3 separate regions of the Homo sapiens genome follow, and regions 2 and 3 are each linked to region 1. The links come from fine-mapping of genetic effects on gene expression. A gene starts in region 1. Each other region holds a variant in brackets. All regions are shown on one strand. Distances are between the middles of the regions. Region 1 holds the start of ARL5A (ARF like GTPase 5A). Region 2 has its middle 46 kb from the start of ARL5A. Region 3 overlaps CACNB4 (calcium voltage-gated channel auxiliary subunit beta 4).

Region 1 (10,712 bases):
TTAAATTTTAGTTATTTATTTTAATAATTTGTCCCCTTTTATTTTTCTTATCTAGGTATGTGTAGCATTCTACAAGGCATGCTGGGTAAAATATACTATGCAAATGTGTACAGTGCTGCATGTTTTGTTCTCCCTCTGCTTTAGTGGCTTTAAAGAAAAAAACGTGGTGTTATTTTTGTGAATAAAAACATTAACAAAGAAAATGCAGAGTGCATGCATAGAGTATCCTCATTTCTATGGATTTGTTTTATGGAATTTAAATGTGTACAAAACAACTGCATTACTTTTTTTCTTTTATATAATAAATGAAAAAAACACTGAAACCAGCGTTATACCTCTCCTTTATATTATTCTAGAAATATATTGAAGAAATACTGGAAATCAATAGGTACTCTTTTATGAAAAAAAGAAAAAGTCTAAACATTTATCCTAAAAAGGGATTCAATCAAATGACTACTTTCTGAATACTCTGCCAGGTGCTGTGAGTGATCACAAAATAAGTACTGTATTAGGAAAGGGTTTATAAGTTAAATACACACACATGTGAAATAAAATACATTCGAATACATGTGCAAAATAGGATTGGATATAGAAAAATATACTAGATGAAGTATTATATTGTTCGCAAGTCATCCACTCCAAAATGATTAATATTGCAGTTATCAGACATTTCCAAAGCTATCTTGTACCTGTAAGAATTCCATAGTATGTATTTGGGGTCAATTGTCTATGTTAAGACTTGATTGGAATTTGACTTTTTTGTCATTTCACTGTATAGGAGATTCCAAAGAAATATGGACTATGTTGATTTTTATCACTGCATTAGGATTATACAGTGATTTATTAGAGTCAAGTTATTTCACAATTATCACATTTAATTCATCTGATCACCCAGGAAAGTAGGCCGGGCATGGATTATGAGATACAAATACAAATGAGGAAACCAAAGTTCACTGAAACTTCTCTCTCAAAAGAATTTTTCTTTTTTTTTTCTTTCTGAGATGGAGTTTCACTCTTGTTGCCCAGGCTGGAGTGCACTGGTGCGATCTCGGCTCACGGCAAGCTCCACCTCCCGGGTTCAAGCGATTCTCCTGCCTCAGCCTCCCAAGTAGCTGGGATTACAGGCATGCGCCATCACGCCCGGCTAATTTTGTATTTTTAGTAGAGACGGGGTTTCTCCATGTTGGTCAGGCTGGTCTCAAACTCCCGACCTCAGGTGATCCGCCCGCCTCGGCCTCCCAAAGTACTGGGATTACAGGCGTGAGCCACTGCGCGCAGCCAAGAATTTTTCTTTAAAAATACGTACTCATAGCCGGGCGTGGTGGCTCCTGCCTGTAATCCCAGCACTTTGGGAGGCCTAGGCGGGCGGATCACCTGAGGTCGGGAGTTTGAGACCAGCCTGACCAACATGGAGAAACCCCGTCTCTACTAAAAATACAAAATTAGCCGGGCGTGAGGGCGCATGCCTGTAATCCCAGCTACTCGGGAGGCTGAGGCAGGAGAATCGCTTGAACCCGGGAGGCGGAGGTTGCCGTGAGCCGAGATGCACCAATGTACTCCAGCCTGGGCAACGAGCGAAAGTCCATCCCCCCACCAAAAAAAAAGAAAAAGAAAAAAAAAAGTACTGATATGTTACTTTTAAGCTAGGTAATCATCTGAAGCATACAAAACAATGCCTGGAATACAATAAATGTTGACTGAATGAATAGTACCTCAGTTATTGGAGAGGTATTATATAAGGCTGTCTCAACTATCAAAGTATTTCAGCCAACAATCTGAAACTCATCTACCAGCCATATGCCTGAAGCTACTTCTCCTGTCATCAGCACATTTCCAATAATAAAATGTACGAGGGAGAGAAACATCTCATTTGTACTTTGATACAACATGCAGATTAGCACAGTGGTTTGAGTGTGGATCTAACCTTTGTCTGGGTTCAAAGCCCAGATCCAGCAATAACTAGCCATGAACTTGGGGCAATCACTTAATGTCCCCATGCCTGGGTATTTCTGTAGAGTGATTTGCTTTTGGTTATGGATCACATTTTCCTGTTTCCTTGCACGTCTAGTGATTTTTTATTGGATTTAGGACAATGTAAAGTTTACATTGTTGATGACTTGATCTCATATTCCTTTAAAGAATGTTATACTTGTTTTGGCAGGCAATTGTGAATTAGTTTGGCCCTTTCAAGGTTTGGTTTTAAGCTCCTTTAGGATTGGTCTTGTGTAGGGCTTATTCTTAGGCCAGTTAGCTCCTCTTCTAAGGTCTCTGGTGGTGTCCACTCAACTATATCGAGTTTATCCAACCCACAGCCTGTGGGCTGCATGCAGCCCAGGATGGCTTTTTAAAAATTAATTAATTAATTAATTTATTTATTTATTTTTGAGATAGTCTTGTTCTGTCACCCAGGCTGGAGTGCAGCGGTTTGATCTTGGCTCAGTGCAATCTCCACCTCCTGGGTTCAAGCAATTCTCCTGCCTCAGCCTCCAGAGTAGCTGGGATTACAGGTTTGCGCCACCATGCCCGGCAAATTTTTGTAATTTTTGGTAGAGACGGGGTTTCATTGTGTTGGCCAGGCTGGTCTCGAACTCATGGCCTCTAGAGATCTGCCCACCTTGGCCTCCCAGTGTTGGGATTACAGGTGTGAGCCACTGCACCCGGCCCTAGGATGGTTTTGAATGTGGCCCAATACAAATTCGTAAACTTTCTTAAAACATTATGAGTATTTTTGTGATTTTACTTATTTTTTAGCTCATCAGCTATCAATAGTGTTAGCTTATGTTATGTGTGGCCCAAGACAATTCTTCTTCCAGTGTGGCCCAGGGAAGCTAAAAGATTGGACACCCCTGTCCTATATATTCAGTTCTCTTCACTCTGGCTGAAGGGAACTCAAATGATTCCTGACCCGTTGTAATCTCTGGGAATCATTTGCATTACAGTTTCCTGGTACTTATTTTTCCTCAGGAATTGTGACTGACCAGCCTCTTGGGGGTTCATACTGCACGAGCACAAATTGATATGCAGCCAAAGACTCAATGGCCCCTTAACAGGTTTCCAGAGCTTTTCTCTGTGTAGCTCCCTCCTTCCAGTTACTCTGCTTCACAAATTCTAGTCACCTTGATCTCTGGGAATGCTGATATGCGTCTTCAGTTCTAAGAGGTTTCCAGATTCTCATTTGGGTTCCCACTTCCTCCGTAGTTGACTGGGAATTGCTTTTAGGGATAAAGTCCAGGAAATGGTAAGACTCCACCTGTTCCTTTCTCTTTTGCAAAGAATCACAGTACTGTGATGTGTTTTTCAATATCTGAAATGTCGTTGCCTGTACTTTGTGCAGTTTTCTATTTGCTAATGGTAGGAGGATATATTCAAACCATCCTACTCTCTCATGCCTGAAGTCAGAAGTCTCTCCAATGACATTTTGCATTTCTCTGTAATCATAGATAAATTGGTCTTTAAACTCTCTGTCTCTGTCTCTCTCTCTCTCTTCTTTCTTCACTCGGAAAATAACCTGGGAGACCATTTCCTTGGGTAGATTGTAAAATATGAAGCTCCGCCATCACATAATGTGTATATGACATCCATTTCATAAGTTGACATCTGTGTGGGAGTCTGAAAAAGTCTTAGAGCTACCAAAGCATTACCTACGGTGTGCGAGAATGGAAATATTACAGAGTTAATGCAAATTGGTTATACAAACTACATTGTTCTTCTAAACAGTGTACAGAATATTAAGTAAATCCAGACATGATAATACATAAATTAATATGGATTACTATGATTTTCCTTCCCTTCATGTATGGCTCCTCTAAACTTTGGCTTTTTAACCATAAAGCCCCAAAAGAAGTCAACGAAATTACTTTTCTATATTTTGAGGTAAAATACTGGGTAGTTAGGAGAAGTGAGTTGGGAAGGTGCGGTTTATTGCTGATTTTGCTTAATTTCATTCAGCTGTTGGGGATGGGAGTGCAAAGCAGTTCAAATGGCTCCTACAAGTCTCCCAATTTTTCTTTATTTTCCTTTTTACTAAGGTTAACGAGAACAGAAAGGGATGGAGCTTTGGTGGCCACTAAAGGTTTTTAAACAGGGTAGTGACTTGATCAAAATCGTTGTTTTGGGCAATACTGACGTGAGAGTTAAGAGATTGGAGAGAAAAGAGCCCTGAAGTGCAAAAATGGCTTTAAGGTGACTATCTAGGTAAGGCCACTGACTTCAGCTGAGTGTCAGAGGGCAGCAGACTTTTCCCTCAAAGACCCACAGGGGACACAATGTCTTAAAGAGTCATGACGTGGAACTTTAAGTGTAGTGTATGTGAAGGGTTGGGGATGGACATGGGGTACTCAATTATATGTTTACATTATGGCGCAGTGGAGAAGATTCGAGGGAAATATAAATACTCGGGGACGCAACAGCAAGCAGTCGGAAGCCATCTGCCCCAACTTGCGGTCTTCACAGCCTCAGTCCCAGGGTAAAGTCCTGCGCCTTCCGCAGTCTTGGTTATGCAAATAAGCGAGGACAGGGCGGGCGCCCTTTCCTACGCTCCGCCCCTCTGGCCGCGCGCCTGCGCACTCACGTCCCTCCAGGCCCGCCCCTTCACTTCCCCCGCCCGCGTGGTCGTCGCCACCGCAGCCGCCCGAGAGGAGCTGGGGGAGGACGGTGGCCCGCGAGGCTCGTCGCAGACAACGCGGCGGCGATGTCCGCGAGCCAGGCGAGTGCCGCGGCGGCAGCGGCGGGGCCTTGCGCGCGGCAGGGCGGCCTGGGCTTCGGCCTCCCTCCGGTTCCCTGGAAGCGGGCCCGCGACCAGCGCGGGAGCAGCAGCAGAGGCGGAGGCTCCAGCGCGTCTCTCTCCTCCCCCTCAGCCTGAGCCGGGGGAAGCCAGGCGGCCCGGGTGTCTGGAGGGGGGGGGTCCGCTGCCCGAGAATGGGAATTCTCTTCACTAGAATATGGAGACTGTTCAATCACCAGGGTGAGGAGCTCGGTCCGCGGGCGTACGGGTTGGGGAGAGGGTCAGCTCGGGCCGGCTAGGTGGGGGTCTCCGAATACTTCGGAATGTGGGCGGCTCGGTCGGGCGCCAGCTCAGCGCGGGGTGCAGGCTGCGCGGATACGGGCCCGGGACGGTTCGGTCCCGGCTCCCGAGCTTGGGGATGGTTCCTGACTCGCAGCCCTTTGTCTTAGGAGACCTTCCTAAGAAGTCTTTTCCGTAATAGACCCATTGCTCCGATTTCGAATGAGAGTGGTAAAGGTTTCTTGCCCTAGGTCCGACGTCCCTGAGTAGCACGGCCTGGCCTGTCTTTCAGCCCTTTCTTTGCTCACCAGTTGTGTTTGGACACCACATAGAAGTGCTGGGGTCTTCTGGAATGAAGGTTATAGATTGCTGCCCTAACCGCACCACTGAGCGACCGAGGGTTGCAGAATGCGGAAAACGGGAGGAATCGCTCGACTTGTCCATTACACCTCTGGTTTATGAGCCTGCCCTCCACTGCCACCCGTCTTTGTGTGTGTTGGGGGCAGGGGGGGTTCTTCTGCCTCCTGAATAGAGATGGACTTCTCTCCATTTGTTTTACTTATTATATCTGTGTTTAAGGTTAAGCTTAAGGTCATTTTTCTACTCGTGTGGGTTATTAGACACAGTTTTTGTTTGTTTTGCTGGGTTAAAAATGTTAAAGTGTTTCACTGAAAGTTTTAAAAACATACCATATGAAACATTTGTTAACCATAGGTAACTAGCAAGTTACTAAGTGTAAAGTGTGTTATATAGGGATGCTTAAGTTCAGCCAACTTCAGACATGGCCATGAAATACCTATCAGGCTTGTTAAAATTTGTTACAAAATGACTAAAACTGGGGAAAGAGAATACAATTTTAACCCAAAGACTGGATACTTATTAAGATACAGTGGTGTACTTTTGTTTCTTTTTAACTCAAGTTGGGTGGTTCATCATTCCGCTGTCAGGAACTTAGTTTGTGTTTTTCTGTTGTGTAAGCTGATGGTGTCACGTCCCAGTTTTCCAATAAAGACTTACGTGAATGGTGGCATCTATTATGTACACCTACTACTACCACCTCCTCCTTCATGATCTAGCTGCTCTTTTAAGAAGCTTAGGGGAAGCAAGCAGAACTAGAACTTGTGATCCCTAATGTATCTTTTACGCACACACACACACACACAGATGTGTAGGTCACGTGATACCGAAAGAAAGGGCAGTATCAATTTTTCTGATAAGAGGATTTTTCATAAAGTAGAGAAAATCAGTTCTAATCAGCACTGTCTCTGACTGGACTGGCTGTTAGTGTTGGGAGCAGGAGAGTGGGAAGCAGTCACTTGAACTCTCAGGTTTTCTGGTCTAGGTTTTCTCACCTAGAACACCAGGGATCTGTGGAGCTTCCAAATCTTGTAAACTTTATTTCTACATTGCAAATATTAAAACGTACATTGCTGTAAGACTGATGGTACTTATAGTAGATAAGATCTATTCTAGTTTTAACATCCATCATTTTGTATTATTTTTAGCAAAGCTAGTGTTTCATCTGCTGTGAGGTTTAGCAAGACTGTGAATTGAGCTCTAGTGCTGCCAGAAAAAGAGTTATCACCACTTTCTATTTTGAGTCAATGATAAAATTATTTGTTTCTGTAAGTTAAGAATAAATGAGAACTTTGCCAACAGCTCCTTGGAGTAGTAAATAATAAGGGTGTGTGCTCTGGTATCACTACAAATTGCTAATAGTAGTGTTTTTATAACCTGTATTTTGTGGTAATTTTTGACGGGACATTTATGGCAGTTTGGCGGAAATTAATAGAGAAATTAATGAAGTTAAGTTCTAGAAAATTAGATATGAATATTGTGAAAGTGTGAATAAATTATTTATTTTCTGCTAAACAGTGTGGCTGTCTTATCAATAGGGTCACTTTTCCGAATATCCACCATTTAATCTAATGCCAGATATTTGTTGGGTTTTGTTTTTGTTTTTGTTTTTTTGAGATGGAGTCTTGCTCTGTCACCAGGCTGGAGTGCAGTGGTGTGATCTTGGCCCACTGCAACCTGTGCCTCCTGGGTTCAAGCGATTCTCCTGCCTCAGCCTCCCGAGTGGCTGGACTACAGGTGCGTGCCACCACACCCAGCTAATTTTTGTATTTTTTGTAGAGATGGGGTTTCACCACGTTGGCCAGAATGGTCACCATCTCTTGACTTCGTGATCCACCCGCCTTGGGCTCCCAAAGTGCTGGGATTACAGGCCTGAGCCATGGTGCCCAGCAGGGTTGTTTTTTTTTTTTTCTGTATAGGACATATATAAGTTAGATATGTGTTGGATGCTCTTGTTTTACCTTCAGTGGATTCAGAATGCAATCTTACTTTCTTTTCATAGAAACTCTTGGAAAGTATGTTTCGGGAGATTACAGAATTTGCCATCTGATGAAACTTAAACTATGCAGTATCTCCTGTTTCTGAAACCCCTCGAGAACAGCTTTTTCAGTTAAAGCTCAGATTGAGTGCACAGTGAAAGCTATTTGTATACCGCTCGAACTAGAAAAACCAGAGGTCACATTTAGTTGATACTGAGATTCAGTAGAGTACAAACTTTATCCTAGATGCTGTCATTTAAATCATTTTATTTTATTTTATTTTATGTTTTAACAATCTTTTGAAGTAGTTATTTCCCCTGAAAAGGGAAAACTGAGGCTTAAGTGGAATGATTTTTTTTCCCCAGGCCATGCAACTGGTATATGCCAGAGCCAGGCAAGTTAAAACCCTGAAGGAATCTCTTAAAGAAGAGATTGACATCATTTTTCCCTCCCTCCTCCTCCCCCCATTAACTTTTTCAGTTGCTAATCTCTAAGTTGTCTTTAGAACTTCGAAAAGTTGCCATTAGTAACTTTTTTTTATAGAAGAGCTTGTGATCAGTGGTTTACTTGTTCTCAATAAACAAATATTTTAACACCTATTTAGTCCAGGAAGTGTTCTACATGGTGGGATAAGGGAACAAAACAGACAAATTCCACTGCCTTTATGGAGCTTTCATGTAGTGTTGGGAGACAGGAAATTAACTCACTTTGTCTCTACAAGTAAAATAATAGTGGTTAACACTTGTGCAAGGTTCACACAGGTTGTTTGATTTAATATTCACTTAGTTGATTTACTCTTTACAACAACCCTACAAGGTAGATATTATTCCCCTTATTTTACAGGGGTACGGAAACAGGTAACTTGCTTTAAGCACTATAGGTAAAAGTGATAGACCTGGATTTTAACCACGATTACGTAGTGCCGGAGTTATTTCTCCTACGCACACACACCTGGATTTTAACAAGATTATCTAGTGCCAGAGTTAGTTCTACACACACATGCACGCACGCACATTTGCACACAACTTCGTGTAAGAAGGACTTTGTATAAGAAGGACTCAGATAAAAAGAACTGACTGATGTGAACTATAAAAGAAGTTGTGGAATTTCCTCATTAATAGCCTTGTATTGCTCTCTTGGTTGGTTGCTAGAAAAGGAATTATAAGTATGAATGGGTGCAGGAGAAGCTGCCTGTGCTTCAGGAACCTGATGCTGAGGAAGCCACCTCTGTTTCTGGCTTATTATTGTTGTTATTATTATTATTATTATTATTATTAGGGAGTTTAAATGTGTAGAGAAGAGTACATATGGAAGCTGAGTAGCCAAGGGGTAGACTGTGTCTTAGCTTCTAATACAGATGCTCCTCAATTTGTGATAGTTGATAATTTGTGATAGATAGATAATTGAAAATACAGTAAGTAAAAAATGAGTTTAATATGCCAGACTTACTGAAAACCATGGCTTTAGCCTAGCTTGCTTTATACGTGCTCAGAACATTTATGTTAGTTTACAGGTTGGCAAAATCTAACCCAAAGCCTATTTTATAATAAAGGTTGAATATCTCGTGTAATTTATTGAATACTGTACTGAAAGTGAAAAACAGAATCTTTGCATGGGTACTCGAAGTATGGTTTCTACTGAATGTGTGTTGCTTTTACAACATCACAAGTCAGAGACCATTTGTAAACCCTTTTTGCATGCTCTGTGGAAGTGGAGCTAGGTCCTTTAAACGTTTTTCTTTTGCCACTGGGCAAAATGTTAAGTTTTGTCAGTAGGCTGCACTGGAGAGGCATTGTAGGAGGAAAGGGTGTTTGTACTTAGTTATAGTGTGCTTTCTTGACGGGCTCTGCTTGTAGCATGAACACCGTCTCCAAGGCCTGGCTCTTGTACTGCATAGTGGTCAGCAGCAGCCAACAGCTTCCCCTAGTACCCGTCTTAGTTGGTTTCATAATGGAAGGTCTCCAGTGAAATACCTCTCAATAAACAGTTTTCCTCAGCACCGAAGAGGGAGGATTTTTGGGCAGGTTCCACTGGCACCTCACCACAGCTACTTCTCTGCCATTCAGTGAGCCACTATCTGTGCCCTCCAACGAGATCTGCATCTTAAGTCTGGAGGGAGGGGGAGGACCTTTATCTCAACCCTAGGGATAGTGAGTGCTTCTTAAATTTGACATTCCCATAATCTTTTAGCCAATCTCTCATTACTCCAGTCCCCTGTAATATTTTTTTGATGTTGAACTTTCCAAGTTCAAATTATTGTGTGATTTCTGCCTCCTGATTGGATCTCTAATTTTGCCATGTGTAATCATTGCTTTTTTTTTTCAGCAACCTCATAGTGCAAAAGAAAATTTGGTTATTCCCCTGAAACTTAATTTACCATTACTGTAATAGCAAGTTTATTTTCAAACTTTCTTTTTATTGTTAAGACTTTTAAGTTTTAAAAATTGAACTTTTAATACAAAACGACTTAAGCAGATATCTCTCTCCTAACCTTTATATTTTCCAGATCTGATTTATTTATTCATGAAAAATATTAAGCTCATGCTTTATTCCAGGAGCTGTCCTATGGACTAAGAGAACTATAGTGAATATGACAAATGGAATTTTTTGCTCTGAGAGACATAGAATTAATAGGGCTTAGTGATAGTTCAGATATGAGGTAAAAATGATGAATCAAGAGGACTCTCCATTTATTTGCCCTGGTGTTTTTGTGTTTTCTGATGTTGTATGATTCACAGAGATAGTAATTCTCTACAATAACAATTATTATTATGCTTAATTTATTGACTGATGAGTTGGGGGAATATATATTAACTTTTAAAAACTGGCAATGAATGGAACTGGTAGACTGCCTGTGTCAAAAGGAAATGAAGGAAAAGGGAAACAAGAAGCAATTTTCATGACAAAACAGTAAAGTATTGATTGGTATGTTAAAGCCTAATTGGTAACTCACAGTTCCATCAAAGCATTAGAACAGTGCAGTTGTTGTGGCTTATTTGAGTAAATACAGGAATGCTGTGACATAGTCTAAAAGAAAAATCATACTAAGCAGTAAACTTCTGATGATTCTTGTGCATCAAAGAGTTGGAATGGCTGAAAGTTTTATTGCATTTGTCCACAATAACATTCTTGTAGTAGGCATATTGGGATTCTATGAAGTCTTTATTTCGAAGTGCATTATAGCACTTTTTGGCTACAAATTTACATTTTGTATAGATGCTTTTCCATCTTGCTAATGAAAGGAACAGGCTGTGGTGGTGAGAGTAAGGATGTTCAGAGGAAATTGATCTACTATTAAAAACTTTGTGACTAATCTGACCCTATTATTGAGATGACACGTTTGTCTTTGAGCCCATTGCACAGTTTGGTCTTAA
Region 2 (10,712 bases), 45 kb after region 1:
CAGAACAGAAACTTTCAGGGTTTGGCCAATTTTACTTTTCCTTAGCATGTATTATCATAAAGTGATGTAAGTACTATATGCCTGGATTTGTCTTATTACTACATCTATTTGTTAGTAAAAGGAGGTTACATGTTGCCTTAGTGGTTTCTTTGCACTTAAATATTTTTTAAATTATTTGGTTCTTGGCTGGGAACTTAGTCCAATATGTCTGCTAAAGTATTTCCCATTTCTTGCCACCTCTACAATAGTGCCATAATTTCCAAGTTGATTTGACATGTATCATCTTTATTCTCACAATCCTGAGAGGTATATAGAGCAAGAATTAAGTTCTACATTTAACAAAAGAGAAAACACACAGAGATTGATTGGCTCTAGGTTATATAGCTAACTGGTAACAAACCAATTTTTATTAAAATTAATTTTAAAAATTTAACTTTTAAAGTTTATCTTAAATGATGAACATCGCTTGTGTTTTTCTTGCATGTAGTTTCTATTTTAGGAGAATTTGCCTAGGGGTAGTTCTGAAACCAAGTAAAAGTAATTGGATTATGAAGGTCTTCTACCTTAAACTAGCTGTCAACTTTAAACTCAACCATTTAATAATTAAATTTAAACTTTACATTTGTTTAATTTAGTAATGTTTCTTCACATTAATCAATTTTTCAAATTAGGAAAGTAATAAATGACAAAAATGGAAGAACATTTATTAAAGATAGAAAAAATGTTTAATGGTCTTGTACATATAAATGGTGTTAATGTTTTGGCTTCATTTTAATAAAGCTTTTATTAAATAGTGTCAGAGAGAGTGGTGGTTATTTTGTAAAGAAAATGTAAAATCTTTTTTCAAATTATAAAATTACTTGCTTATTTTCATACTTGGTGAGAGCCAAATTAAAATTATTTATAGTTTAATGGGCTACTTTTCTAATATTTGCTAGATAAGAACTTCACTTGAATAAAATATGTCACATAAATTTATACAACATTTTTCACAGTGAATGTGGTTCTCAAAAATTTTATTTCTAAGTTGGAACAGAAAAAGATAAGAAATATAAATATGTATAATGAATATAAATTGATTTCTTAATACTTTCTACTCTGACTGAATATCAAAATTAATTAATATGCTCTTTGAATCCTAGAAAAAAAGCTAATAGTTTAAGTATTAGTAATGTACTAAAATTAAAATGACCTTAAAAAGGGATTCAGGTATTTCATGCTAAATTTTCCTTTGATTTTAAGTTACCAACTGATAGAGTACAAAAGTGATAACTTTCTGAATATTGTTGCTGTAAACAAGCATATATTCAGTTCCTCCTGTGTGAAAAGAAGCCAAATGTAATGATTGTGGTCTTATTCAGCGACAAAGTGCTGATGATATTATTTCCATAGACAGTACAATTCTGCAGCTGGCTCTGTCAGTCTAGGAAGAGAGCTCACTAAATAAAGACCATGAAGTAATTTGCAATTCAGGGGCAGCATTTTAAAGGAAATGAGCTGAAAGTCTACTCATTAAAGTCAAAGGAAACCTTGTGCTTTTTTTTCTTTTCAATATATTTGTTTCTTCAAAGTGTAGCTATACCAGCTTGCATAGCCCATATTGGGAATTCAGAAAAAGGTGACACTGTTAAAAATTTTACTTTACTTTTTGGAGAAGTTCCTTGGAGATAGATCTTTTGGGGTAAAAAAATTATTTGGGTGTCTGGAATTTAAACCTACGTTGCTCGTTTCATTTCAGACATATAAGAAATGAGTTTCAGAGGCATTTGTTAGTTGTCTGTTTCCTCGCAGTGTAAGACTGTCAAGCATATAAATGCAGGAGCCCCAGTGGCCTGAAAGCAGTCAAGAGTTCCTACCCTCCTTGGCTCAATGGAAACGCAAGTGAACTATACAGCGTTCAATGGACCAATCAACAGGGCAAAAATCAGTAAGTGCATGTCCAGTTTTCTGAGGACAATATTTTAGCTACAAATGATTCTTTTGATGCTGTATGTATCTCCTCACCCCATCCCCCTTAGGGAGTCCAAAATTGTGTCATTTGGCTTCTTATGTATAATAGCAAAATTTTATTTATAGCAAAATAAAAGTCAGTAGACATTTGAGTAGCTACTCTGACTTAGAAACTGCTAGCAGTCAGGGATGTAGAGAATGAAACCATGTATGTTGCCAGTTGCTTAATCTGGTGGGACAGATTTATGAACAAATAGCTTATGTGGTGTTAGAAATATATCACAGGTAAGTATTTCTGCTTCTAGTAATCAAATTCCTGACATACATACTTTTGAAATAGCCTAAAGGCCTGTAAGAAATAGGTCAGTGCCAGGGCATCTCCACTTTTTATTAGATGTCAGTAGCAAGCTTGGTTCTTCTATTAGGGTAGGTTTGTTTTCTTCTTTTCTTATTTGTGCCTACTGCTCTTTCACCTCTGTATTGTGGGACATTCCTTATCACATGCCCCCACTTGTTGCTACCCCAAGTCACTCAGGGTTTTACCAAACTTCCCTCTCCATCCTTGACCTTTCAGTGTTTATTTAGACCCTAGTAACCTACAGATTCATGCTGCCTGTGTGATTGTTCAGATGATGTCTGAAAGGTAATGTGTGTGTCAGAAAGTGAATTCATCTTCCCTACCCTCCACCTCCTGCCTCCTTCTTTCCCATTTCTCAAATTTTGGTACCACTGATCTTGGCCCTGCAAAGTAGCAACACCCTTAAATAGAGTGTTCACATATGAGTGAGATCATGTGGTAGTCCTCTTTATGTGCCTGGCTGATTTCACTTAGTGTAGTGTTCTCCAGGTTCATCTGTGTTGTTGCAAATGACAGCATTTCCTTCTTTTTTAAGGCTGAATGGTAGGGAATCCCATCTTGCACAGTGTCTCCTGAAACACCTAACTCAGCACACAGTGGATGCTCTTCCTCCCTGCCCGCATGGGGTATTGCTGCGGACTCCTCAGGTCTCCTCCATATTCCTTTCCCCATCCCCAGCAGACAGCCTTGCTTCATAATTTAAAAGATGATAAAGGCTATGCGGTGTGAACTCCTGGACTTCTCTACCATTTTATCTCCGTTTGCTCATTTTCTGGGAGTTTGTTCTCTCTAGTCACTGAGGCTGATTCAAGTCTCCTTCCATAACTATACTCTTAGTTCCATTTCCTTTTGCATTCATGCCTTGTTTTTCTCCTTCCATAACATTTTATGGAACACCTACTATATGCATGCCACTGTGCTGATGCTGGGAATGTAGTCATCATAATTAAGATGGTCAAAGTTGAGCTTCCATTGTAATGAGGAGAATCTTTTTTATTGGTTTTTCAATCTCTTCCCCTCGAGTGGTCTATGTGATCTAAGACATTTCCAACTTTTCCGCTGTATAAAAAAAATAAAATCCTAGACTCTCTTAATGTTATACCTCCTTCTTGATACTACCTGATTCTTCCCTTCCCTTTTCAACCAAGCGCCTTGAGAAAACATTATAATGTTTCTGAAACTTGAGTTCACCCAAACTATTTTTAAAGAACCTTGTTCTGTATCTTGTAACCTATACAAAAATAACTAAAAATGGAATATAGACCTAACTGTAAAACTTGAAACTATAAAAGTTCTTAAGATAACACGGAAGAAAATCTTTGTGACTTTGGGTTAGGCAAAGATTTGTTAGCTGTATAACCAAAATTTGAGCCATAAAAGAAGAAAAAAAATTAAACTTCATAAAAATTAAGTATGGTAGTCTCCTCTTATCTGTAGTTCACTATCTGTGGTTTCATTACCCGCAGTGAATACCATGGTCCAAAATTGTTACGTACAGTAAGATGTTTGAGATAGAGAGAGACCACATTCACATAACTTATAGAAGCATTTTATTATAATTGTTCTGATTTATTATTGTTAATCTCTTACTATGCCTAATTTATAAATTAAACTTGATCGTAGGTATTATATATAGGAAAAAAACATAGTATGTAAGGTTCAGTACTATCCACCATTCCAGATATCCACTGGGAGTCTTGAAATGTATTCCTCCTGGATGAGGGGGAGCTATTTTACTTCTGCTCTTTGAAAGATGTGTATAAGAAAATCAAAAGATAAGCCACACATTGGAACAAATAATACTTGCAAATCACATATGTTATAAAGAACTTATATCTAAAAATCACAAAATAACTCAATTAAAAAAATAGAACAGTGTGCTGTGGCTCACACCTGTAATCCCAACACTTTGGGAGGATGAGGTGGGCAGATTGCTTGAGTCCAGGAGTTTGAGACCAGCCTGGGCAACATGGCAAAACCCTGTCTGTACAAAAAATAGAAAAAATTAGCCGGGTATGGTGGCATGCACCTGTGGCCCCAGCTACTCAGGAGGCTAAGGTGGGAGGACTGCTTGAGCCCAGGAAGGGGAGGTTGCAGTGAGCCAAGATCGTGCCACCACACTCCAACCTGGGTGACAGACAGAGACCCTGTCTCAAAGAAAAAAAAAAGGCAAAAGATCTGAACAGACATTTCAACAAAGTAGATATACAGAGGACAAATAAGCACATGAGAAGATGCTCAACAGCATTAGTTATTAGGGAAATAATAAGTAGCTTCTCAAAAAGTTCAACCTGTGCCTATTGTATGACCCAGCCATTTCATTACTAGGTATTTACCCAAGTGAAAAAAGCCCAATCAAAGACTTGTACACAAATGTTCATAGGAGCTTTATTTACAATAGTCCACAACTGAAAAAAAAAAAAAAAAAAATGTCCCTTAGCACATGCAAGTACAAACAAATTGTGTTATGTCCCTACAATGGAATACTACTCTGCCGTAAGAAGGAACAAACTATTGATACACAAGACACATGAATATCAAAATTATTATGCTGAATGTAAGCCAGACAAAAAAGATTGCATACCGAATAATCCCATTTATATGAAATTCTAGAAAATGCCAAGTAATCTATAGTCACAGAAAGCAGATTAGTGGGAATGGGAGACCAGGGAAATATGGGAGCTGGGATTACAAAGGGGTGTGAGGAAACATTCTGGAATGATGGATATATTCATTATCTTTATAGTGATGATGGTTTCATGAGTGTTTACATATGTCAAAACTTACCACCAAATTGTATCCTTAAATATGTGCAATTTACTAGATGTCAGTTATACCTCAACAAAGATTTTTTCGTTTTTTAGAAGGCTACATAATGTGCAAGTCCATTAATGTGACATTCTTATGAAGGCAAAACTATAGAGACAGAAAACATATCAGTGGTTGCCAGGAGCCAGGGTGATAGGCAGGGTTAACCACAAAGTAGCATGGGGGACATTTTTGGGATGATGAAATCGTTTGACATTTTGATTACAGCGGTGGCCACACGACTATACATGTTTGTCGAAATTCACAGAACTGTACACTAGAGGGTACGTTTTACTATATATTAATTATACTGTAATTTTGAAAATGGAAAAATTATTCAAATAAGTCTATGAATACCAGAGTTGTTTTTACTAAATTTCCACATCCTAGTACATTGAGTAGTGCACCCTTACCTGCAAGGGTTATGTTCCAAGATCCCCAGTGGACACCTGAAACCATGGATAGTATGGAACCCATATATATTAAGCTTCTCCTAGACATACATACCTATGATGAAATTTAATTTATAAATTAAGCACAGTAAGAAATGAATAATAAAAAATAGAACAATTATAACAATTTACTACAATAAAAGTTCTGTGAATGTGGTGTCTCTCTCAATGTCTTATTGTGTATAATATTTTTGGACTTCAGTTGTCTGTCGGTCAGCAAAACTACAGATAAGGGAAGACTATCTGTATATATAAAGTCAAGTATATTTTTATTTATAAATCAGATTTATTACTGATACGTTTAAACCAAAATACGTTTACAAATTAAATTTTAAACACCACAAATTCAATACAATTCAAAGAAGCAACATTTATTTAATAAGATGGACAATGTTATTTTGCTGGATGTAAAACATTTGTGGGTACAGCTCCTTCCCCAGGACCACCTTCCTGGCCACCCCCCAATACCTGGCACCAAGTGTAGTTCTCTCAAGGCCTCTCTCCCCTCCTGGATGGTCCTTCCCTTCTCCTGGATCCTCACT[G/A]CCATCCCCTGCAAAGGTTCGCTGTCTGCTGTGTCTCAGCCACATGCATCTGTCTCCATTTTATGCTCCACACAGGTCTCCTGTTGGATACGCAGGAAAGGTAGCTTCTGCTCCTAAAAACGGAAAAGAAAGGAAAAAGGAAGCACCGTATAGGTCTGACCTCAGAATACAAAGTCTGAAAAACAAATGGGGAAGGTTACACACTTGCTGACACAATCCTTTCTCTGATGCTAAGAATGCATTTCTGTGGCAATACACAAGGACTCCTTCTATTACCTTAGCCTTGAAGGTGCCAGCTTGAGAGGGCAGAGACAGGAAAAATCCCACCCTGCCAAGCCTATGGTCCCGTTCTAGGCTCTGAACGACCTGAAGACAGGTACAGTCTCATGAATCTTTGTATCCTCAGTGCCTTGCAGTAGCTGGCATGTGTCAGCTAATCAATGAATTAATAAATTAGTAAATGAATGCATCAACCAAATTCATTCCACTGTGATGACTTGAATAAATATTCAATGATTAAATCGGTGCAACCAAAACTAAATTAATTGCTGCCCTAATTAATTTATCAGTAGGTGTGGCAGTGGCATCTGGTTCATACACCAATTCTCAGTAACACCCAATTGATGTTGTCTTTTCTAGATGTTCTGTTATCTGGAAGAGGCTCTGAGGACCAGTCTTCACATGTTTCTGTCCAGGTTATCTTACTAAAATGCTCCAGAAGTTCATATGTTTTAAAAATAAAACATCTAGACTCTGTGATCTTGGGCAAGTTGGTAAATTTGTCTGAGACTCAGTTTCTTCAGCAGTAAAATGGGGATACCAGTAGGAACAACTTCACAGAGTTGATGTGAGAGTTAAATGAGTCAATGAATGTAAAGTGCTTGGTGCAGTGCATGGCACCAAATGACAGTAAATGTTGATGACTTTTCCTCCTCCTGCTTGCACCAAGTGACAATAAATGTTGATGATTCCTCCCCCTCCCCCTCCCCCTACCTCTCCCTCTCCTCCTCCCTTTCTTCCTTCTCCTTCTCCTTCTTCTTTCTTCTTCTTACCATTATCACCACCACCACAGCCTTTGCAATTTTTTGTTTTCTATTTCCCACTAAGATGCTAGTATATCCTTGCCTACTTAGAGGAAGTGTTCTGAACTCTGACCGTCTCTTCCTTGTTTAGGAGAATTCAAAGAATTCTGTTACAATTTCACCTGGGATCTCCATAGGTGACTATTGCTTTTTTTTTTTTTTTTTTTTTTGAGACGGAGTCTCGTTCTGTCGCCCAGGCGGGAGTGCTGTGGCGCGATCTCCGCTCACTGCAAGCTCCGCCTTCCGGGTTCACGCCATTCTCCTGCCTCAGCCTCCCGAGTAGCTGGGACTACAGGCGCCCGCCACTGCGCCCGGCTAATTTTTTGTATTTTTAGTAGAGACGGGGTTTCACCGTGGTCTCGATCTCCTGACCTCGTGATCCGCCCGCCTCGGCCTCCCAAAGTGCTGGGATTACAGGCGTGAGCCACCGCGCCCGGCCGACTATTGCTTTTTATTGAAATAGAATAAATTTGAGTGACTTACCAGCTCCTGGGCACACAGATAATTGTCCTTTAGAGAAAACAACAATAACAACCTTAAGAGGAAAAATGGCACTAAATTAGAATGCGGTTTTGGTTATACAATTTCTGCAAAATTTATTATTGAGTTTCTAGTCATCAAGGTGAAAAGTGGCTTTCCAAAAGGGAGAGGGAGTAGGTGGTGGTGCTGTGAGGAGATAATAATGACCTTGCCCTTGGGCCCATCTCTGCAGGGGAGGTGGTGTAGGCTGGTGGTGATGGGTCCAGGGTTTCAGCTGGATTCAGTTTTGAATCTTCTCTTGATCTTGTTATATAATTTGGAGCAACTTACTCTGCCACCTCTCTTAGCTTCTCTTTTCTGCTTCACAACATCCACTTCATATGAGGATTAAATGAGGTCATACCAATGTGGGAAAAAGAAAATTCTCTTTAAAAACCTAATTTCAGATGATTTCATGTTAAAGGGACTCGACCAAGGAAAATGTATCCTTCTGTTTTGGGGCCATGTACTTCTAGAAGGCAAAGCCCCAGCTGCGTCTGGATGTAAGGTCAAGAGAAAGAGGGCAGTAACACTAACTGGCTCTGAGTAAGAAGGTGGGAGACTTTTACATTTTCTCTTTGAAACTCAAGAAAAGGAGTTTGGACCCTGGAACTGGAGGAAAAGGAGAGAGGAGGAAATGGCCAAAGTGATCTTTGCCAACAGGCTTGTTGGATGATGAAGTAAAGGTTGTTTTCTCTTTCACACTCTGGTTTTTTGTTACCTTTTCCCTAGTCTTCAGTGAAGCTTTACTACTTCCTTAGACTTGTATTAGCACCGCCTAGACTTGTATTAGCACGGGAAGGTCACATTCAGAGCAAGCTGAACAGAGAATCAAGTACAGAGTTTAGAGCAAGGAACAGGAGCGAGGGTGAGCGAGATCACCGGGAAAATGTAAGTTCCTCTCTGGAGCTCCTTGGAAACAGTAGAGAGAGAGCTGAGCTTCTCCTCGTTATCAATTTATTTACATTTTCTTGTCTTTGTATTTATTTGAGCCCAGATAACTGGAAGACTGGGGACAGGTGAAACATACTTCCCCACTGAGCATGTCTACTGCTACCACCTTAGTATAAGTTATCAACACTTGGCTTGGATGACTGCTATTGCCTTTTAACTAGTTTCTTTGAATCTTTTAGGTTTTTTTTTATTTTTTATACTTTAGATTCTGGGGTACATGTGCAGAACATGCAGGTTTGTTACATAGGTATACATGTGCCATGGTGGTTTGCTACACCCATCAACCCGTCACCTACATTAGGTATTTCTCTTAATGCTATCCCTCCCCAGCCCCCCACCCCCCAACAGGCCCCCATGTGTGGTGTTCCCCTCCCTGTGTCCATGTGCTCTCATTGTTCAACTCCCACTTACGAGTGAGAACATGTGGTGTTTGGTTTTCTGTTCCTGTGTTAGTTTGCTGAGAATGATGGTTTACAGCTTCATCCATGTCCCTGCAAAGGACATGAACTCATCCTTTTTTATGGCTGCATAGTATTCCATGGTGTATATGTGCCACATTTTCTTTATCCACTCTATCATTGATGGGCATTTGGGTTGGTTCCAAGTCTTTGCTATTGTGGATAGTGCCGCAATAAACATACGTGTGCATGTCTTTATAGTAGAATGATTTATAATCCACTGGGTTGGGTATATACCCAGTAATCGGATTGCTGAGTCAAGTGGCATTTCTAGTTCTAGATCCTTGAAGAATCACCACACTGTCTTCCACAATGGTTGAATTATTTTACACTCCCACCAACAGTGTAAAAGTGTTCCTGTTTCTCCGCATTCTCTCCAGCATCTGTTGTTTCCTGACTTTTTAATGATCGCCATTCTAACTGGCATGAGATAGTATCTCACTGTGGTTTTGATTTGCATTTCTCTAATAACCAGTGATGATGAGCTTTTTTTCATATGTTTGTTGGCTGCATAAATGTCTTCTTTTGAGAAGTGTCTATTTCCTTTGCCCACTTTTTGATGGGGTTGTTTTTTTCTTGTAAATTTGTTTAAGTTCTTTGTAGATTCTGGATATTAGCCCTTTGTCAGATGGATAGGTTGCAAAAGTTTTCTCCCATTCTGTAGGTTGCCTATTCACTCTAATGAACTCTCTCTTTTTTTTTTTTTTTTTTGAGACAGTCTCACTCTTTCACCCAGGCTGGAGTGCAGTGGTAAACTCTTTCTCTATTGCAATTCCCCTGCCTTGATAAATTGGCTCTATCTGGGAAGCCGGCAAGAACCCACAGGGTGTTTACATTACTATCTGTCTTCATGAAGGCAAAGGCTTTGATTTTCTTCATAAGCCCCATCATGCAGCTAGCACTTGGCTTAGTGACTAAACCCTCATAGGCACTCAACAGACATTTGAATAAACATGTCCTGGGCAGTGCTGTCCAATAGAAGTAAGATGTGTGCCACATATGTAATTTTAAATTGTTGAGTAGTTACATTCAAACGTAATAAGAAACAATAAAGTTAATTTTACTAATACATTTTAATTACCCAATATATCTAACATGTTACCACTGCAACATGTAATCAGTATAAAAATTATTGAGATATTTTACTTTTTTTGTGTTAAGTCTTCAAAATCCATCGTGTATTTTACATTCAGAGCACATCTCAATTTGTATTAGGTGCCTTGCAAGTGCTCCATAGCCTAAAGTAGCTAATGACTCCTGTACTGGACAGGGCAGGTCTGGAGCCTCCTAGTGTTCAATATATGCCAGTTGATAGATAATAGCACAATGCAAAGAATTGGAGAAAGAAAGTTTTATTCTGAAAGCTGCCGTACCCACTGGTTGATACGGTGACTATGAGACTTCATTCACCTGTTAACATCTGGAACAGCAGAAAGACCTAAAGTGCCCATGATGAATGAGTAAGGACACTGGACCAGGAGTGAGGTGAATATGCAAAAGCCTGTGTCTCCCAGAGCCCCAAAGAGACAGGAGAGCAGAGGACACCCAAAGAGCAACAGGCTTGTTGCACCAGTGGGAAGACACAGCAG
Region 3 (10,712 bases), 230 kb before region 1:
CTAAAAAAATACAAAAATTAGCTGGGCATGGTGTGGCGTGCCTGTAATCCCAGCTACTTGGGAGGCTGAGGCAGGAGAATCGCTTGAACCTGGGAGGCAGAGGTTGCAGTGAGCTGAGATCGCAACACTGCACTCCAGCCTGTGTGACAGAGCGAGACTCCGTCTCAAAAATAAGTAAATAAAGTACATTATAAACATTCTGGTGCATATACAAAAATGAAATATTAAAGAATAAAATATAGATTTGAATATGGAAATAGAGACTTGAATATTTTCTTCCTGCACTCCAGCAAATGTTTTTGCCTTCTCCCTGGGCTGCCAAAGTCCACGTGGGAGACATCCGATTCAGATGTCCATGGCTCCCTTCATGCACTTCAACAATGTGAATTTTAAGAGATGTTTGGACCCATGTACTCACCGTTAGACATAGCTAGACCTAAACTAACCTCTGTGTGTAGTTATATATTGAAGACTGTCTTCCTAACATTTCAGAACTTCTGTTAATTTCCAGTACTCTATCATTCACAAGACTGTTATTACATTGTCTGCTGAGAATTACAATGAATTTAGAACAGGGGTGTCAGCCTGTGTTGGCAGATAGGTTTTGTTTGGCTCATCATTCAGAAAAAAATAATTTTGAATGACTGCCAAGATTTGAAAGTTGGGGGATTTTGTACACGAGTCTGAATTTTCAACTTTTCTGGAAAAATTGTGAGGAATGGCAAAACTGGCTTTTCATTCTTCTAGGAAGACATTCGGAGCTGATGGGTGGCTGCCTCTTTTAGGTAGGCATCTGCCCTCTTGGTCCTCATTAACCCTGCCCCCCGCCTCACAGCCAGTGTGCTTCACTCACTTATATTACTTATGTGTCTTCTGTAGAATTTAAGTTGTTTGCTTTGGTCTAAATTTTGCAAGTGTTAATATTAACACAGGCTTCTTGAAATTATGTAATATGCAGAAAACTCTTCAAACCTCAATCTGTGAGGAGTGCTGTTTACCTGGTTTATTTGCTGAGAACCCCAGGAGCTTGATTGCATGCACAGGCTGGAGCTGGCTTGGTGCAGTGTGATTTTCCAAACAGCCTCTAGAGCAAGATTGCCTGGGTTCAGGTTCTGACTCTGCTGTTTTCTAACTGTGGGACCCTGGGCACATTAATCACTCTCTGCCTCAGTTTCTTTATCTGCATAATGGAGCTAATAAATGAATAGATGTAAAATAACAGGCTAATAACATTGCTTGGCACATAGTAAGCATTTAGTATGTGTTGGCTGTTATCTTTAATTTACCAATTCCTATAATTGGGTATTTTGTAATGATTTTGAACAGATTTGGAACTGTTAGAGGCTATCTAAACTGGTTGAGAATAACTAAATTTACACTGTAGAATCATCTATGTACAGTTCACTGAACAGTTAACTGATTACCAATATATGTGCAATAAACTCCCAGTGACATTGCGATATGTCTGGAATGGAATCTAATCCCTTCTCCCTAAGAGGTTAGTGAATTCCTTAGTATGGAGCAGCTGAGGGAATTGTCTCTGTCCAAGTCCATCTGGATGCTTCTGACTCATCTGCTGATCCTCCTCTGCGTGGATGTCTGGCCCACACCCTAAAGCTAATCTGAGTCCCAAGGGGCATTTTCTTGTCCAAAAGTTGATATGCTAATTTCAGAGAAGTGCTAGCCTTTCTGTCTAAAATTGCTCACAGTTCACACCTCATGTCTTGTCTTCTGCTCTGTTTCCTTCCTAATTTGGCATTACACAGGTCTGTGCAAAGCCAGACTTTAAGGAAGTTCCCTCTCCTCCCGTGTCCTCTGCCAAATGCTTCCCGTCTGTCATTGGCAAAGGCTCTGTCTTGCCATGATGGGAGAGGCCAGGAGCTGCTCCAAAGCTGGTGGAAAGAGAGCCGTTCCACGTTCAGTGCTCCGTGAAGAGCTGCTTCCACTATTGAGATGGGGAGGTGATTAGGTCTAGGTGGTTTCCAGTTTGGCTTAGCCACAGAGATCTTGCCCATTCTGTGTATGTACCCCCTTGGCTTGCTTTAGGAATGCATGTATCTGTCAGAAGTGCTGTTTTTCTGGAAATTTCTTTGTTCTGGTGGTTTAAAGCAACTATCCTTATGCAACTGACACAGTACATAGAGAGACTGGATCAAAAATGAAATAAAATGATTTAGAAGAGTGGTCAGTGAAGTGTTGGTCTCAACTCAATGGCGGTGTCAACTCAGTGGTGTGACTGGACTGGCCTCTGGCTGAGGGGATGTTCACAGTCTTTGCTGCCTGAATACTGTTTTTCCTAAACTCTCTAGCTAGTTTTTTTTTCTATCTGTTGTAATGCATTAGGAATTCCATGTATTAGCATGTGTTTATTCACTGAATTAATGAGTAGTTAACCAAAAATTAGGGGAAATTTTCACAATAAGGTACATAGAAAGTGAATTTATCTAGTAATCTTAAGTATTTGCTGAAAAAGAATTACTCAGGGTATCAGGAAATCCAGAAAGCATTCCTAATCATTATTATTATTATTATTATTATTATTATTATTATTTTGAGATGGAATCTCACTCTGTCACCCAGGCTGGAGTACAGTGGCGCGATCTCCGCTCACTGCAACCTCTGCCTCCTGGGTTCATGTGATTCTCCTCTCTCAGCCTCCCGAGTAGCTGGGATTACAGGTGTGTGCCACCACACCCAGCTAATTTTTGTATTTTTAGTAGCGACAGGGTTTCACCATGTTGGCCAGACTGGTCTTGGACTCCTGATCTCTGGTGATCCGCCTGCCTCGGCCTCCCAGAGTGCTGGGATTACAGGTGTGAGCCACTGCACCTGGCCCCTAATCATTATTTACATGATCATTCTTTATTCTACTGTTTGAGATGACAGTCATATCTGGAAACATTCATAACTTTTTTTTTTTTTTGCTTTGAGAAGCAGAAATCACAGTGGCTAGATTTGGATTTTTGAATTTACATGGTTTATGACTTGAGCAAGTCATTTAAGATCTATGAAATTGATGTAATATGCTCTTTTTACTTCACAAAGTTTTGGGAGGCTCAAATAAGCCTACTTACTTAAAGCTGTTTTTAAAAGTAAAATGTGATAGATTACATGAGTTATTTTTGCAGTCTAGATGTTACTATAGTAAATATTCAATTAGTAATCATTTGCTAAATTTGGACAATACTAATTACCTCTTTTCTCTATTTTAAAAATTTCAGATATTTTTAAAAACTAAATTAATTTTTTTTTAGAGACAGGATCTTGCTCTGTCACCCAAGCTGGAGTTCAGTGGCACGATCATAGCTCACAGCAACCTCCAACCCCTGGGCTCAAGCAATCCTTCTACCCTAGCCTCCCGAGTAGCTGGGAGGCTACAGGCATGTGCCACCATGCCTAGCTAATTGACAAAAATTTTTTGTGGAGACGGGATCTCCTTATGTTGACCAGGCTGGTCTCAAACTCCTGGCCTCAAGAGATCCTCCCACCTGAGCCTCCCAAAACGTTGGGATTATAGGCATGAACTATCTTGCCCAGCCAGTTTTAAATATTTTTGATTAAAAAGAAATATATGTTCATTGCAAAACATCTGTGAAACACAGAAAAGTATAAAGATCACCTATAATATGGCAACTGCTATATATTAACATTTTGTTACATCTTTTCATATTTTCTGTGTATATGCACACATAGATATAGACAATGCTTTTTTTTACAAAAATTTATGTATTGTTTTGTTATTTGATATTTTCATATAAGACTGTATTGTAGACATCTTTTCCAGTTAATAAGATCTAGTTCATCACTGTTAATCTGATGTGTAGATGTACCGTGATGTATTTAACTTGCCCCTGTTGCTGGAGATTTGGTTTTCCAATATCTTATATTTTCTTGATGCTGATGTTTTATTTTCTTATGATAAATGTATAGAGTTGGAGTTCCTGGGCAGTTGTTTTCTAAGTTGAAAATCTAATGTACACTGCTCCCTCACCCCTTGACATGAGTTGTGGAATAGCTAATAATGTAGATTGTATGCTTTTTTACAGTCCTTGATACATTTTGAGCCTCATAGCATGCTATAACATTGGATTTATCAGAGCAGTAGTTTTCCTTGAACCTATTCAAAGGAGGTATGCTTAATTTAAAAAATCTGAAGACCTCATTATAGCATAGTTTTACTTGTAGCTCAGCAGTGGTTCTCCTGTGAATTAATAATGCATTAATAATTTTAAATCTTTTAATGTAATGGTATGAAATGAATCAACATTCAGCAAAC[A/C]TTTACTGAATCCCAACTGTTGATTAACTTTTTACTACACACCAAAGGCTATAAAGATGAATAAAACTCAAGTCATTTTCCTTGAAAAACAGTCTAGTGTGGGAGATAGATGTGTAAGCAATTAATTATATAACATTGTATTAGTCCATTTTCACACTGCTATAAAGAAACACCCAAGACTGGGTAATTTATAAAGGAAAGAGGTTTAATTGACTCACAGTTCCACATGTCTTGGGAGGCCTCAGGAAACTTACAAACATGGCAGAAGGTGAAGGGGAAGTGAGGACCTTCTTCACATGGTGGCAGGAGAGAAAAGAGTGAGGAGTGAAGAGGGAAGAGCCCCTTATAAAACCATCAGATCTGGTGAGAACTCACTCACTATCATGAGAACAGCATGGGGGAACCACCCCCAAGATCCAATCACCTCCCTCCTTGTCACTCCCTAGACATGTGTGGATTGCAATTCAAAATGAGATTTGGGTAGAGACACAGAGCCAAACCATATCATTCTGCCCCTGGCCTCTCCCAAATTTCATGTCCTCACATTGCAAAACACAAATCATGCCTTTCCAACAGTCCCCCAAAGCCTTAATTCATTTCAGTATTAACCCAAAAGTCCAAAGTCCAGTCTCATCTGAGACAATGCAAGTCCCTTCTGCCTATGAGCCTGTAAAATCAAAAGCAAGTTAGTTCCTTCCAAGATACAATGTGGATACAGGCGTTGGATAAATGTTGCCATTTCAAATGGGAGAAATTGGCCAAAACAGGGGCTACAAGCCCCATGCAAATCCAAAATCCCACAGGGCAGTCATTAAATCTTGAAGCTCCAAAATGATCTCCTTTGACTTCATGTTTCACATCCAGGTGATATTATTGCAAGAGGTGGGCTCCCACAGTCTTGGGCAGCTCTACCCCTGTGGCTTTGCAGGGTACAGCCCCTGCTCCCACCCTGGCTGCTTTCACGGCTGCCGTTGAGGGTCTGCAGCTTTTCCAGGCACACACACAGTGCAGGCTGTCAGTGGATCTGTCATTCTGGGGTCTGGAGAATGGTGGTCCTCTTCTCACAGCTCCACTATGCAGTGCCCCAGTGGGGGACTCTGTGTGGGGACTCCAACCCCACATTTCCCTTCTGCACTGTCCTAGCAGAGGTTCTCCATGAGGGCTCCACTCCTGCAGCACACAAGTGCCTGGACATCCAGGCATTTCCACACATCCTCTGAAATCCAGGCAGAAGTTTCCAAACCTCAGTTCCTGTCTTCTGCACAGCCACAGGACAAACACCACATGGAAGCTGCCAAGGCTTGGGACTTGCACCCTCTGAAGCAATGGCCCAAGCTGTACCTTCGCCCCTTTTAGCCACAGCTAGAGTGACTGGGACAAAAGGCACCAAGAGGCTACATACAGCAGGGGGGATCCTGGGCACAGCCCATGAAACCATTTTTCCCTCCTAGGCCTCTGGGCCTGTGATGGGAGGGGCCACTGTGAAGGTCTCTGACATACCCTGGAGACATTTTCCACATTCTGTTGATATTAACACTGGACTCCTGGTTACTTATGCCAATTTCTGCATCCAGCTTGAATTTCTCCCCAGAAAATGGGTTTTTCTTCTCTACCACATCATCAGGCTGCAAATTTTCCAAACTTTTATGCTCTGCTTCCCTTTTAAACATAAGTTCCAATTTCAGATTATCTCTCTCAAGTTCAAAGTTCCACAGATCTCTAGGACAGGGGCAAAATGCTGCCAGTCTCTTTGCTAAAGCACAGCAAGAGTTACCTTTGCTCTAGCTCCCAATAAATTCTTCATCTTCATGTGAGACCACCTCAGCCTATACTTCACTGCCCATATCACTATCAGCATTTTGTCAAAACCATTCAACAAGTTTCTAGGAAGTTTCAAATCTTTCCACATCTTCCTGTCTTCTTCGGAGCCCTCCAAACTATTCCAACCTCTGCCCATTACCCAGTTCCAAAGTTGTTTCCACATTTTTGGGTGTCTTTATAGCAGTACCCCCCTCTTTGCGGTACCAATTTACTGTATTAGTCTGTTTTCATACTGCTGTGAAGAAATACTTGAGACTGGGTAATTTATAAAGGATAGAGGTTTAATTGACTCACAGTTCTGCATGGCTGAGGAGGCCTCAGGAAACTTTACAGTCATGGAGGAAGGCAAAGGGAAAGTGAGGACCTTTTTTACATGGTGGCAGGAGAGAGAAGAGTGAGGAGCAAAGTGGGAAGAGCCCTTTATAAAACCATCAGACCTTGTGAGAACTCACTTATTATCATGAGAATAGCATGAAGGAAACTGCCTCCATGATCTAATCACCTCCTACCAGCTCCCTCCCATGACACATGGGGATTATGCAGATTACGATTCAAGATGAGATTTGGGTGGGGACACAGCCAAACCATATCAAACATCATGGTAAGTTGTATTATAGTATGTCCTTGGAAAAATAAAAGTTTCCTTCCCTCTGCCTGCCATAGGCAGAGACTAGAGAGAAGAATGGGACTTTGTCAGTGTACCTCATTAGGACTTTTCAGGGGTCAGTTCAATTCAAAGTCTCTGCTGAAGATCTGTGCGTGTGCATATGCCTCTGTGTGTGCATGTGTGTATGTATATACATATTTTAAAACCTGAAATGGGTGTCATGGAATAGAAGGGGAGTGAGAGGGAGAGACTGAGTAATACAATCTAGTGGCCAAAGGATTCTTACAGACTAAATGTCCGGTATTCAGTTTTGTGCTTTTAGGATTTTTGTAATGTAAAGCCTCCCTGTCTCCCTAGCCCATGAATAAAGTCTTCTGTATACACAGAAGTCACAAGTGAAGGGGCAGTTTGTTTATTTTTAGGTTTTTGTATTCCTTAATTATTGTTGCATGAATAACACACATTTGTTTTCTCCTAATTTTTGTGGCTTAGGAATCTAAGCATGGCTCAGCTGTGTCTTCTGTATCACCTGTAGTCACAAGGCTGCAATGAGGGTGTCAGCTAGACCTGGGGTCTCATCTGAGGATTTGTGGGAAGGATCTGCTTCTCAGCTCATTTGCATGGATTTTGACAGCATTCAGTTCCTTAAGGTGTGTTGGACTGAGGGTCTCGGTTCCTTGCTGGCTGTTGACAGGAGACCACCCTAAGTTCCTTACTATTAATACATGGACCTCCAGCCAGTGAGAGAGAGTCTGCTATTAATAACAAGATGACAATCACTATCTTTTGTATTGATTAGGGGAGTGACATCCCTCAATGTTGCCGTATTCTGTTGGTTACTCATGAGAAGAGGATTGTACATGACTAGGAATACTGGGAGGTGGAGATCTTTGGGGGCCATCTTAGAGGCTTGCTATCAGAGCTTTCAGTGGAAATCAGCATAAGGAGTTGAGGTCTATGTTTGTAAAAGTAAGGGATAGTCACAAGACACATAGCAGAGAACAAGAAGTCAATGAGGGCAGAAAGTTGGAGGTAACAGTATCCATAGGATAATCACCATTCTCGCCTTATTGTCTAGGGATTTCAGACATCCTGAATGGGTACTAAATTTTCCACAGGATGTGGAGTTGTGGTGCAAGCAGTGGTAACTGGAGCATAAAGAGCAGCATGATTCCAGTTGCCATCTGGGTTATAATAATAATAGAACTATGAAGAAAATGCCAAGGGCATCACACACAGGTAGAGTCTATTAATTGCCTAGCAAAGCTGGGAAGACGTCACTAGGGGGTGGCATGTCTAGGTCTTCCCGTGTGAGCAGCAGAAGGAAGGTACCTTCCAGAGCAAAGGAGTTTCTAGTAGTGCAGTGGTTTTAGTAAACCTGGAGAAAGTTGATGAGGCTTGAGTGTGTGAAACATGGGAGATAATTGTAGCGGATAAACTGACAAAGCATTTGGGGACACGATATTTCTGAAAATTTCTAATTTCTTTTTTTTTTTTTTTGAGACAGAGTCTCACTCTGTCACCCAGGCTGGAGTGCAGTGGCGTGATCTTGGCTCACTGCAAGCTCTGCCTCCTGGGTTCATGCCATTCTCCTGCCTCAGCCTCCCAAGTAGCTGGGACTACAGGCCCTGCCACCATGCCTGGCTAATTTTTTGTATTTTTAGTAGAGACGGGGTTTCACCGTGTTAGCCAGGATGGTCTTGATCTCCTGACTTCGTGATCCATCTGCCTTGGCCTCCTAAAGTGCTGGGATTACAGGGGTGAGCCACCGTGCCCAGCCGAAAATATCTAATTTCTAAAAAATCTTGCGGGTATTGATGAACCAATTGGTATAACCAGATTTTTAAATATGGTCCTTCTGGCTTCAGTGTGGTGGGTAGTCACAGGGGCGTGGTGGTGAGTAGAAACCATGTGAGGAGGTGATGATAGTAACAGGCGAGTGAGGATATAAACATACTGAGCTTCGGTCGCCACTCACTTGCTGTGCCTTGACTGCTCTTTGTCACACTTTGCCCAGTTTCTGTCTCCTTCCTCCTTAGTAGTCAAAGTTTGAAAATTTCAGAGGTTAGAGTTCCTCCGAAAAAAGTTATTTGTCTTGGCAATAGCTTCTTAATTATCTTCTTAGAATCAGGGGGGAAATCAGCCTTCAAAGCTATTTTAAGGATTAATTAACAATTCTGAAAGGCTCCAGAAGCTTAAAAGCCTTATCTAGACTTTGCAGTGTTCAGTAATAATCAAAGTGATAATCAGAGCACAGCAGGACTCAGTGGGGTGTGCAAATCCATTCATGTCTTGCATTGCCTGTGGGCTGTGTGGTCTGCCATGTCTCCATAAGTGAGTGAGTCAGGGTAAGGAGAGGCCCTGCTGCTAAAGTGGAAAAGAATCAATGCCTACAACTGACAATACAAGCTGAAAAAAGCTTGTTTAAAGTTGATCTTAAGATATGGCACTGAAGCACAAGTAACCAAAGAAAAAAATGAATAATTTGGAGCTCATCAAAATTAAAAACTTCTGTGCTTCAAAGGTTACTATCAAGAAAGTAAGAAGAAGACCAGGCATGGTGGCTCACACCTGTAATCCCAGCATTTTGGGAGGCCAAGGCAGGCCGATCACTTGAGGTCAGGAGTTCCAGACCAGCCTGGCCAACATGGTGAAACCCTGTCTCTACTAAAAATACAAAAATTAGCCAAGTGTGGTGGCATGTGCCTATAGTCCCAGCTACTCGGGAGGCTGAGACATGAGAATCCCTTGAACCTGGGAGGCAGCGGTTACGGTGAGCTGAGATTGTGCCACTGCATTGCAGCTTGGGTGACAGAGCAAGGCTCTGTCTTAAAACAAAAAAGAAGACAACCCACAGACTGGGAGGAAATATTTGCAAATCTTATATCTGATAAGGGACTTGTGTCTAGGATATATAAAGAACTTTTAGACTCAGTAGAAAAGACGTTTCAAAAATAGGCAATGGATAGGAATAGACATTTGTCCAAAGAAGACATACCAGTGGCCAATAATCACATAAAAAAAAGTGCTCCGTATCATTAGTCACCAGGAGGAAATGCAATTCAAAACCACAATGACATGCCACTTTACACCCACTAGGATGGCTATAATAAAAAAGACAGATAATTTTTGGCAAGAATATGGGGAAATTGGAATCCTCATACACTGCTGGTAGGAATGTAAAATGGTGCAACTACCATGGAAAAGTTTGGCAGTTTCTGAAAAGGTTAAGTATAGAGTTATCTTATGACCCAGCAAGTCCACTACTAGGTACATATGCAGGATAAATGAAGGCATGTGTCCACACAAAAGCCTATACAAGAATGTTTTTTGCAGCATTATTCGTAATAGACAAAAAAGGAAACAACCCAAATGGTCATCAGTTGATGAGTGGATAAGTAAAATATGGTCTGAAGAAAAAATAAACAATTTTTCTCCTCTACTGTCATACAGTCACTCAACACAATACTATTTTTTTTTTTTTTTTTTTTTTTTGAGACGGAGTTTTGCTTTGTCGCCCAGGCTGGAGTGCAGTGGCGCGATCTCGGCTCACTGCAAGCTCCGCCTCCCGGGTTCACGCCATTCTCCTGCCTCAGCCTCCCGTGTAGCTGGGACTACAGGCGCGCGCCACCACGCCCGGCTAATTTTTGTATTTTTAGTAGAGACGGGGTTTCACCGCGTTAGCCAGGATGGTCTCGATCTCCTGACCTCGTGATCTGCCCGTCTCGGCCTCCCAAAGTGCTGGGATTACAGGCGTGAGCCACCGCGCCCGGCCAACACAATACTTCTTAAGTGTAGAGGGTTTTTTCCACACACCAAACAATCCTCCAGCAGGTGCAAACTGGGTATCCTATAATTTTACTCAATTCTGACACTAGCTACTTGAAGACAGGATCAGATCCCACATGTTGAGGGCTCAGTCAGCACCTCTCCCCCAGTTTCAGATGCCAATCGCAAGTAATAGATTGTTACCTATACTTCTAACTGAGGGATTCCCATGACCCTCAT

Evidence for each region. PIP is the estimated chance that this variant, and not a neighbour inherited with it, causes the effect. A credible set is the group of variants that fine-mapping cannot tell apart.
Region 2: its variant is the best candidate, but not a certain one, in a credible set for the expression of ARL5A in blood mononuclear cells (TOPMed, PIP 0.64).
Region 3: its variant is the best candidate, but not a certain one, in a credible set for the expression of ARL5A in lung (TOPMed, PIP 0.55).

Annotation. Positions count from the first base shown.
Region 1 is chr2:151,822,382-151,833,093 of GRCh38, reverse strand. It overlaps ARL5A (ARF like GTPase 5A), which reads left to right and starts at 4,673. Exons shown (of 6, transcript NM_012097.4): 1 at 4,673-4,963. The coding sequence starts at 4,918. It overlaps CACNB4 (calcium voltage-gated channel auxiliary subunit beta 4), which reads left to right. Exons shown (of 14, transcript NM_000726.5): 14 at 1-323. RefSeq lists enhancers at 4,348-4,397, 9,212-9,271 and silencers at 4,448-4,957, 5,008-5,057.
Region 2 is chr2:151,777,383-151,788,094 of GRCh38, reverse strand. No RefSeq gene overlaps it. Among named protein-coding and RNA genes, the nearest start is that of ARL5A, 46 kb to the left of the region's middle. RefSeq lists an enhancer at 5,146-5,440. The variant G/A (reference allele first, on the strand shown) is at 6,111.
Region 3 is chr2:152,053,853-152,064,564 of GRCh38, reverse strand. The region is part of intron 2 of CACNB4 (calcium voltage-gated channel auxiliary subunit beta 4); the gene reads left to right. Among named protein-coding and RNA genes, the nearest start is that of CACNB4, 40 kb to the left of the region's middle. RefSeq lists an enhancer at 10,335-10,712. The variant A/C (reference allele first, on the strand shown) is at 4,277.